Regions from separate parts of the Homo sapiens genome. Here region 2 is reported to be linked to region 1. Evidence: microRNA targets listed by miRTarBase, many of them from high-throughput screens and not tested one by one. Region 1 holds a microRNA gene; the other region holds the end of a gene's coding sequence.

Evidence for each region. The annotated mature microRNA hsa-miR-3925-3p reads ACUCCAGUUUUAGUUCUCUUG and lies in region 1 at 2,414-2,434, opposite strand. An mRNA with a match to its seed (bases 2 to 7 or 8) in the 3' UTR can be bound and repressed. Matches are read on the target gene's strand: a 7mer-m8 pairs with bases 2 to 8, a 7mer-A1 pairs with bases 2 to 7 and ends in A, and an 8mer does both.
Region 2: the mRNA of ZNF791 is a reported target of hsa-miR-3925-3p. The part of its 3' UTR that is shown has no 7-base or 8-base seed match.

What each region holds. Positions count from the first base shown.
Region 1 is chr6:36,620,033-36,624,352 of GRCh38, forward strand. It overlaps MIR3925 (microRNA 3925), which reads right to left and starts at 2,480; the gene lies at 2,404-2,480.
Region 2 is chr19:12,628,782-12,631,781 of GRCh38, forward strand. It overlaps ZNF791 (zinc finger protein 791), which reads left to right. Exons shown (of 4, transcript NM_153358.3): 4 at 1-3,000. The coding sequence ends at 479. Among named protein-coding and RNA genes, the nearest start is that of ZNF791, 19 kb to the left of the region's middle.

The sequences.
Region 1 (4,320 bases):
ATCACTTGAGGCCAGACATTCGAGACCAGCCTGGCCAACATGGCGAAACCCTGTCTCTGCTAAAAATACAAAAATTAGCCAGGCATGGCTGGGTGCGGTGGCTCATGCCTGTAATCCCAGCACTTTGGGAGGCTGAGGAGGACAGATCATGAGGTCAGGAGTTCAAGACCAGCCTGACCAATATGGTGAAACCCCGTCTCTACTAAAAATACAAAAATTAGCTGGGTGTGGTGGCACGCACCTGTCGTCCCAGCTACTTGGGAGGCTGAGGCAGGAGAATCGCTTGAACCCGGGAGGCAGAGGTTGCAGTGAGCCGAGATCACGCCAATGCGCTCCAGCCTGGGTGACAGAGCAAGACTCCATCTCAAAAAAAAAACCAAAAAAACAAAAAAGCTGCGTGGTGGTGCACGCTTGTAATCCCAGCCGCTTGGAAGGCTGAGGCACAAGAATCACTTGAGCCTGGAAGGTCAAGGCTGCAGTGAGCTGTGATGGCGCCACTGCACTCCAGCCTGAGTGAAGGGCAAGACCCTGTCTCAAACAAACAAACAAAAATCAAAGGATGAAGTCACGTAGATTTTGGGCAAATTGTTTTCCAAAATCTGTTAGCATAATTCTACAGAATGTCAAAAAGATAAAGACATCCACCAGTAAACCCTAATTGTTTGATGGTTGTAAGTAGTCACTTGAGATGTGACCGCAATAGGGGCCTGCCCATGGGGAAGGTGGCATACCCACCCATCTCCTGTGCCAACATGGCGTCCCTATCTCCTGGTAGCCCTGAGGCGAGGGTCAGGTGAAGGAAGTTGGGATCATCATTTACTCAGTTTGCCTATCTGTAGAAAGGGGGTATTTGGGCTGAAGGTGGCCTGTAACTCACAGGATGATCTGTCCCCTCTTCACACTGCACCCTGCAGTGAGGGGAGCAATGACTGAGTCAACCACTGCTTTAGGCAGCGGGGGTCCTTGATAAGGAGATAAGTTTGCCACACTGGGACTGATGGTCCTCAAGTTCTTTTCCAGCACCGATATTCTAAGATTCGGTGACTCCAGAAAAGCAATAAGGCCGTTGTGAGGAGGGCAGATCCAGAGGATGATCTTCCTGGAGGGGAGGGGAAAATGTTCAGTGCATACAGTGGGTAATGGTTCATCTGAGGTGGCATCAGACTGTACAACAAGCAGGGATTGTTCTGCAGGGTTCAGGCGACTGTTAGTATTTGATCAAGATTGGAATAGTCTCCTAAAACCTACTTGATCCTCACAGAAAAGTTCCTATCCCCATTGTGCAGATGTGGAAACTGAAGGTTAGAGATAGAAAGTTAGACCCTAGGGTGAGGCAATGGATGGCTAGGACTAGAACCCAAGGCAGGCTCCTAGGGCTCCTGCTTTTCCAGCACGCATCTACCATGCATATGTGCTACTACCAGGCCTGGCGCTAGGATTCACATCACTTTAGAGGCTGCTTGGTGAACATGGGCACCCACAAAAGCCCTGGAGAAGGCAGGTTCTTTCTCAGGAATGGCCAGTGGGTGTGAAGATCACAGTGTGGGAGAAAGATCAAGGAGGACTGAGGGCCACCCGACCAGGAATCATCTCCAGCAGCCTGTGGGTGACCGCTCGTCATCCAGATCAGCATCAGGAAGGTTCTGCACAACACCTCTAGGGAACACATGGGGATCGAGGTCCTGTGGCCGTCTTGGGGTCTGAAGATCTAGATTTAGCTTCTGGCAGTATCATGATGCAAACCTGGGCAAGTTGTTTTGTTCCCTGGACCTTGGTCTCTTCATCAGTGAAATGGAACTAATTATATTACCTCATAGGGCTATTATAAGGCCTAATAAAAAAAAAAAAGAAAGCATCCATAAACAATGTTTACTGAGCACTAGTAGTGCCAGGCACTCTTCACTTGTATTAACCCATTTGATCTTCACAAAAAATATTTTCTTTTTTGTTTGAGACGGAGTCTCCCTCTGTCGCCCAGGCTGGAGTGCAGTGGCGTGATTTTGGCTCACTGCAGCCTCCACCTCCCAGGTTCAAGTGATTCTCCTGCCTCCGCCTCCCGAGTAGCTGGGATTACAGGCGCCCGCCACCACACCCGGCTAATTTTTTGTATTTTTAGTAGAGACAGGGTCTCACCATGTTAGCTAGGATGGTCTCGATCTCCTGATTTCATGATCTGCCTGCCTCGGCCTCCCAAAGTGCTGGGATTACAGGCGTGAGCCACCGCACCTAGCCCACAACAAATTTTAGAGAGTAGGTACTATTGCTGTCCCCATTTTAGGAAACACAGAAGTTGGTTCCAGCCACAAGGAAGTGGCTTCATCCATCATCAAGAAGTTGATTCCAGCCCACGTGGATGGCTTTGAGGAGTTCAAGACTTTAGTGGAGGAAGTGATGAAAGATGTGGTGGAAATAGCAAGAGAACTAAAACTGGAGTCTGGAGATGTGACAGGCTCCACTTTCAGTTCTCTTGCTATTCCCACATGACCATGGTCCAGGATCCTGAGTTTATGTTCAGGAAATAAGACTCAGCGAAAACTTGCAGTCACTTTCATAATCATTAATGCAGAGATTCTCAATAAATTCTTAAGGCTCCACCACGCTCCAACATAAAGTAACACATTCAGTTTGTTACAGAAATGGTAATAAGGCAACACTATGCAATACTATGTGTACAATGCAGCACTTTGCAGTACCAAAATCCATGCCTACAAAGCACTGCACAAGAACACATACAAATAAAGGATATAGTAGAATGGCTGCCTGTGGGGTGGGGGCATGGAAATGACAATGGAGTGAGGGGGGAATACATGAAGCAAGAGGTGACTAGTCAGGACCAATGATGACAGCCAGCCATCACCTGGGGAATAGGAGGGACTCATCCCACTGCACCTGAGGACTAAAAATAAAATGGAATGGAAACAAGACCCTGGGTGAAATCACTCGGCCTGAAATACACTGGCCCTGGGCTCAAAGAGGAAAGGTGGGGACACATCCTGGGCTGCCTCATCAAACCAGGAGCCTGCAAGAGCATCCCTGTGTGTGTGTGGAGGGGGTGAGGACAAAGGGAGGGTCAACCACACCCAGTTCTGTGAGCTCAAACACCAGACTAAAGGCCACAGGCAGACCCTCCAAGGCCTCAGGGAAGGAGTGAAGAGAAAGGCCTGGGTGGTCAGTGTCAGAGGCGGCACAGTCACATGCTGTCATGCCTATTTCACCAAGGTTTAGCCAAATGCACTATTAGGGTGTCAAGAAAATATGGATATAGGGCAACAATCCTGTGATTGTATGATGACTGTAGGCTTGATCATCATAAGGGTCCTGCCATATGCTGGTCCAGTTGGCACACCCACCCATCTCCTGTGCCAGTGGAGTGTGCCTGTGAAACAGCAGTCAGCTCTTCTGGTGGCCCTGAGGATCGGGGTGAAGGAAGAGTGGATCTTCATTTAGTTAGTTTGCCCCTCTGCAGGAGGAGGGGAGTTGGATACAGACCTCTCCTAACAACCCGCCTGGCTACTGGAACCTTCCTGAGAAATGTGGTTAACCTCTGGGCGCAGAGCCAGCAGTTCTAGGCTCCCGTCACAAGGGGGCAGGATGGGGAAGAAAACAGGTTCTCAATTCCAGGCCTTGGACCTGTCAGGTTTGCTGGCAGGGGCAGGAAGGAGGGTGGGGTCGGGAGTGTGTGGTGGTTGATGAGGGATCCAACCATCGTTCCGCAAGAGCGGCTTGTTTATTAAACATGAAATGAGGGAAAAGCCTAGTAGCTCCATTGGATTGGGAAGAATGGCAAAGAGAGACAGGCGTCATTTTCTAGAAAGCAATCTTCACACCTGTTGGTCCTCACCCATTGAATGTCCTCACCCAATCTCCAACACAGAAATGAGTGACTGTGTGTGCACATGCGTGTGCATGTGTGAAAGTATGAGTGTGAATGTGTCTATATGGGAACATATATGTGATTGTATGTGTGTAACTATGTGTGACTGGCAGCGTGGGGAGTGCTGGTTGGAGTGTGGTGTGATGTGAGTATGCATGAGTGGCTGTGTGTATGACTGTGGCGGGAGGCGGAAGGGGAGAAGCAGCAGGCTCAGGTGTCGCCAGAGAGGCTGGGAGGAAACTATAAACCTGGGCAATTTCCTCCTCATCAGCGAGCCTTTCTTGGGCAATAGGGGCAGAGCTCAAAGTTCACAGAGATAGTGCCTGGGAGGCATGAGGCAAGGCGGAAGTACTGCGAGGAGGGGCAGAGGGTCTGACACTTGAGGGGTTCTAATGGGAAAGGAAAGACCCACACTGAATTCCACTTAGCCCCAGACCCTGGGCCCA
Region 2 (3,000 bases), not on the chromosome of region 1:
CAAAAACCTTCATTTCTCTTGAGAACTTTCGAAGACACATGATCACCCACACTGGAGACGGACCTTATAAATGTAGGGACTGTGGGAAGGTGTTCATTTTTCCTAGTGCGTTACGAACACATGAAAGAACTCACACTGGAGAGAAACCCTATGAATGTAAACAATGTGGAAAAGCCTTTAGTTGTTCTAGTTACATTCGGATACATAAAAGAACTCACACTGGGGAGAAACCTTATGAATGTAAGGAATGCGGGAAGGCCTTTATTTATCCCACAAGCTTTCAAGGACACATGAGAATGCATACTGGAGAGAAACCCTATAAATGTAAAGAATGTGGGAAGGCCTTTAGTCTTCACAGTTCCTTTCAAAGACATACAAGAATTCACAATTATGAGAAACCTCTTGAATGTAAGCAATGTGGAAAAGCCTTCAGTGTGTCCACATCCTTAAAAAAACATATGAGAATGCACAATCGATAGAAACTCTATAAATGTGAGAAATAGGAGAAAGTTTTCAATTCTAACAGATGCTTTCAAAGTTGTGAAAATTCCCACTGAAGAGAGAAATCCTGTCAATGTAAGTAATATAGAAAGCGAGATACAAGATGATTCATGTATAGTCAGGTACCACATAATCATGTTTCAGTCAGCAATGGACCATATAGGTTGGTAGCCCCATAAGATTATATAACACCTAAAACATTTCTATCAACCGCAATTTAGTAGCAGTAGTAACACCATAGTGCAGCACATTATTTAAGTGTTTATGGTGCTGGTGTAAACGTGCTGCACTTTCAGTTGTATAAAAGTACAAGACAGCGGCCGGGGACGGTGGCTCACGCCTGTAATCCCAGCACTTTGGGAGGCCAAGGCGGGCGGATCACGAGGCCAGGAGATCAAGACCATCCTGGCTAACACGGTAAAACCCCATCTCTACTAAAAATACAAACAATTAGCCGGGCGTGGTGGTGGGCGCCTGTAGTCCCAGCTACTTGGGAGGCTGAGGCAGGAGAATGGCATAAACCCAGGAGGCCGAGCTGACAGTGAGCTGAGATCCGGCCAACAGAGCGAGACTCTGTCTCAAAAAAAAAAAAAAAAAAAAAGTACAACACAGCTGGGCATGGTCACACCTGTGATCCCAACACTGGGAGACTAAGGCAGTAGGATTGCTTGATGCCAGGACTACTCTGGTCAACCTAGTGAGACCCTGTCTCTACAAAAAATAAAAACATTTTCTAAGTGTGGTAGCACACCCTGTAGTCCCATCTACATGGGAGGCTGAGGCAGGAGGATTGCCTGAGCCCAGGAGTTCAAGGCTACAGTGAACCAAGATCACGTGATGGCAGTCCAGCATGGGTGACAGTGAGACTGTATCAAAAAAAAAAAAAAAAAATTGGCTGGGCACAGTGGCTCATACCTGTAATCCCAGCACTTTGGGAGGCTGAGGTGGGAGAATCAGTTGAGGTCAGGAGTTCAAGACCAGCCTGGTCAACATGATGAAACCCTGTCTCCATTAGAAATACGAAAATTAGCTGGGCGTTCTGGTGTGCCTGTAGTCCCAGCTACTTGGGAGGCCAAAGCAGGAGAATCGCTTGAACCCGGGAGGTGGAGATTGCAGTGAGCTGAGATCTACCACTACACTCCAGCCTGGGTGACAGAGCGAGACTCCGTCTCGAAAAAAAAAAAATTACAGCACAGATGTGCAATATATACTTGATAATAAATGGCTAAGTTACTGGTTTATATATTTACAATCCTGTTTTAGAATGTATTCCTGTGTTTTTTTAACAGTAAGACAGTCTCAGGCAGGTCCTTAAGGAGATATTCCCGGAAAAACTTTGTTATGATAGGCGATGACGGCTCCATGTGCAGGACTGCCCCTGAACGTATTCTGGCGGGACAAAACATGGAGGCAGAAGACAATGATATTGATGATCCTCACCCCGTGTAGTCCTACACTAATGTGTGTTTGTGTCTTAGTTAGTCTTTAACAAAAATAGTTTAAAAAAATTTAATAGAAAAAGCTTATAGAATATGGACATAAAATATTTTTGTACAGCTGTACAATGTGTTTTAAGCTAAATTATTACAAAGTTTTTAAAAATAAGTTTATAAAGAAAATAATGTACAGTAAGTTAAGGTTTATTCATTATTGAGGAAAAAATGTTTTTATGAATGTAGTGTAGTCCAAGTGTACAGTGTTTATAAATTCTCCATTAGTGTACAGTAACATCCTGGGCCTTCGCATTCACTCACCACTCAACTGACTCACCCAGAGCAACTTCTAGTCCTGCAAGCTATGTTCATGGAGTGTCCTATGCAGGTGCATCCTTTTTTATCTTTTATACTGCATGTTTACTCTGTGTATTTTCTGTGTTTAGACTCATAAATACTTAACATTTTGTTACAATTTCCTACAGTGTTCAGTACAACAACATGTTGTATGGTTTATAGCCTAGTAGCAATAGACTGTACCATATAGTCTAGATGTGTTGTAGCTATACCATCTAGATTTGTGTAAGTTCACTTTGTGATGTTTGTACCATGAGGAAATCACCTACAACACGTTTCTCAGAACATATACCCATGATTAAGCAATCTCTGCCTGTAAAATGCTCCAGAAAATTCACACCATGATATAAATTCATCACACACGATATAAAAGTTAAGGCAAGGCATGGTGGCTCATGCCTGTAATCCCAGCACTTTGGGAGGCCAAGGCAGGCAGATCACCTGAGGTCAGGAGTTCGAGACCAGCCTGGCCAAGACGGTGAAACCCCATCTCTACTAAAAATACAAAAATTACCTGAGCGTGGTGGCATGCACCTGTAATTCCAGCTACTTGGGAGGCTGAAGCAGGAGAATCATTTGAACCTGGGAGGTGGAGGCTGCAGTGAGCTGAGATTGTGCCACTACACTCCAGCCTGGGCAACAGAGCAAGACTCCATCCCACACACCAAAAAAAAGTTAAAAATTTTTTATCACTGGCTCATTCTTCAAG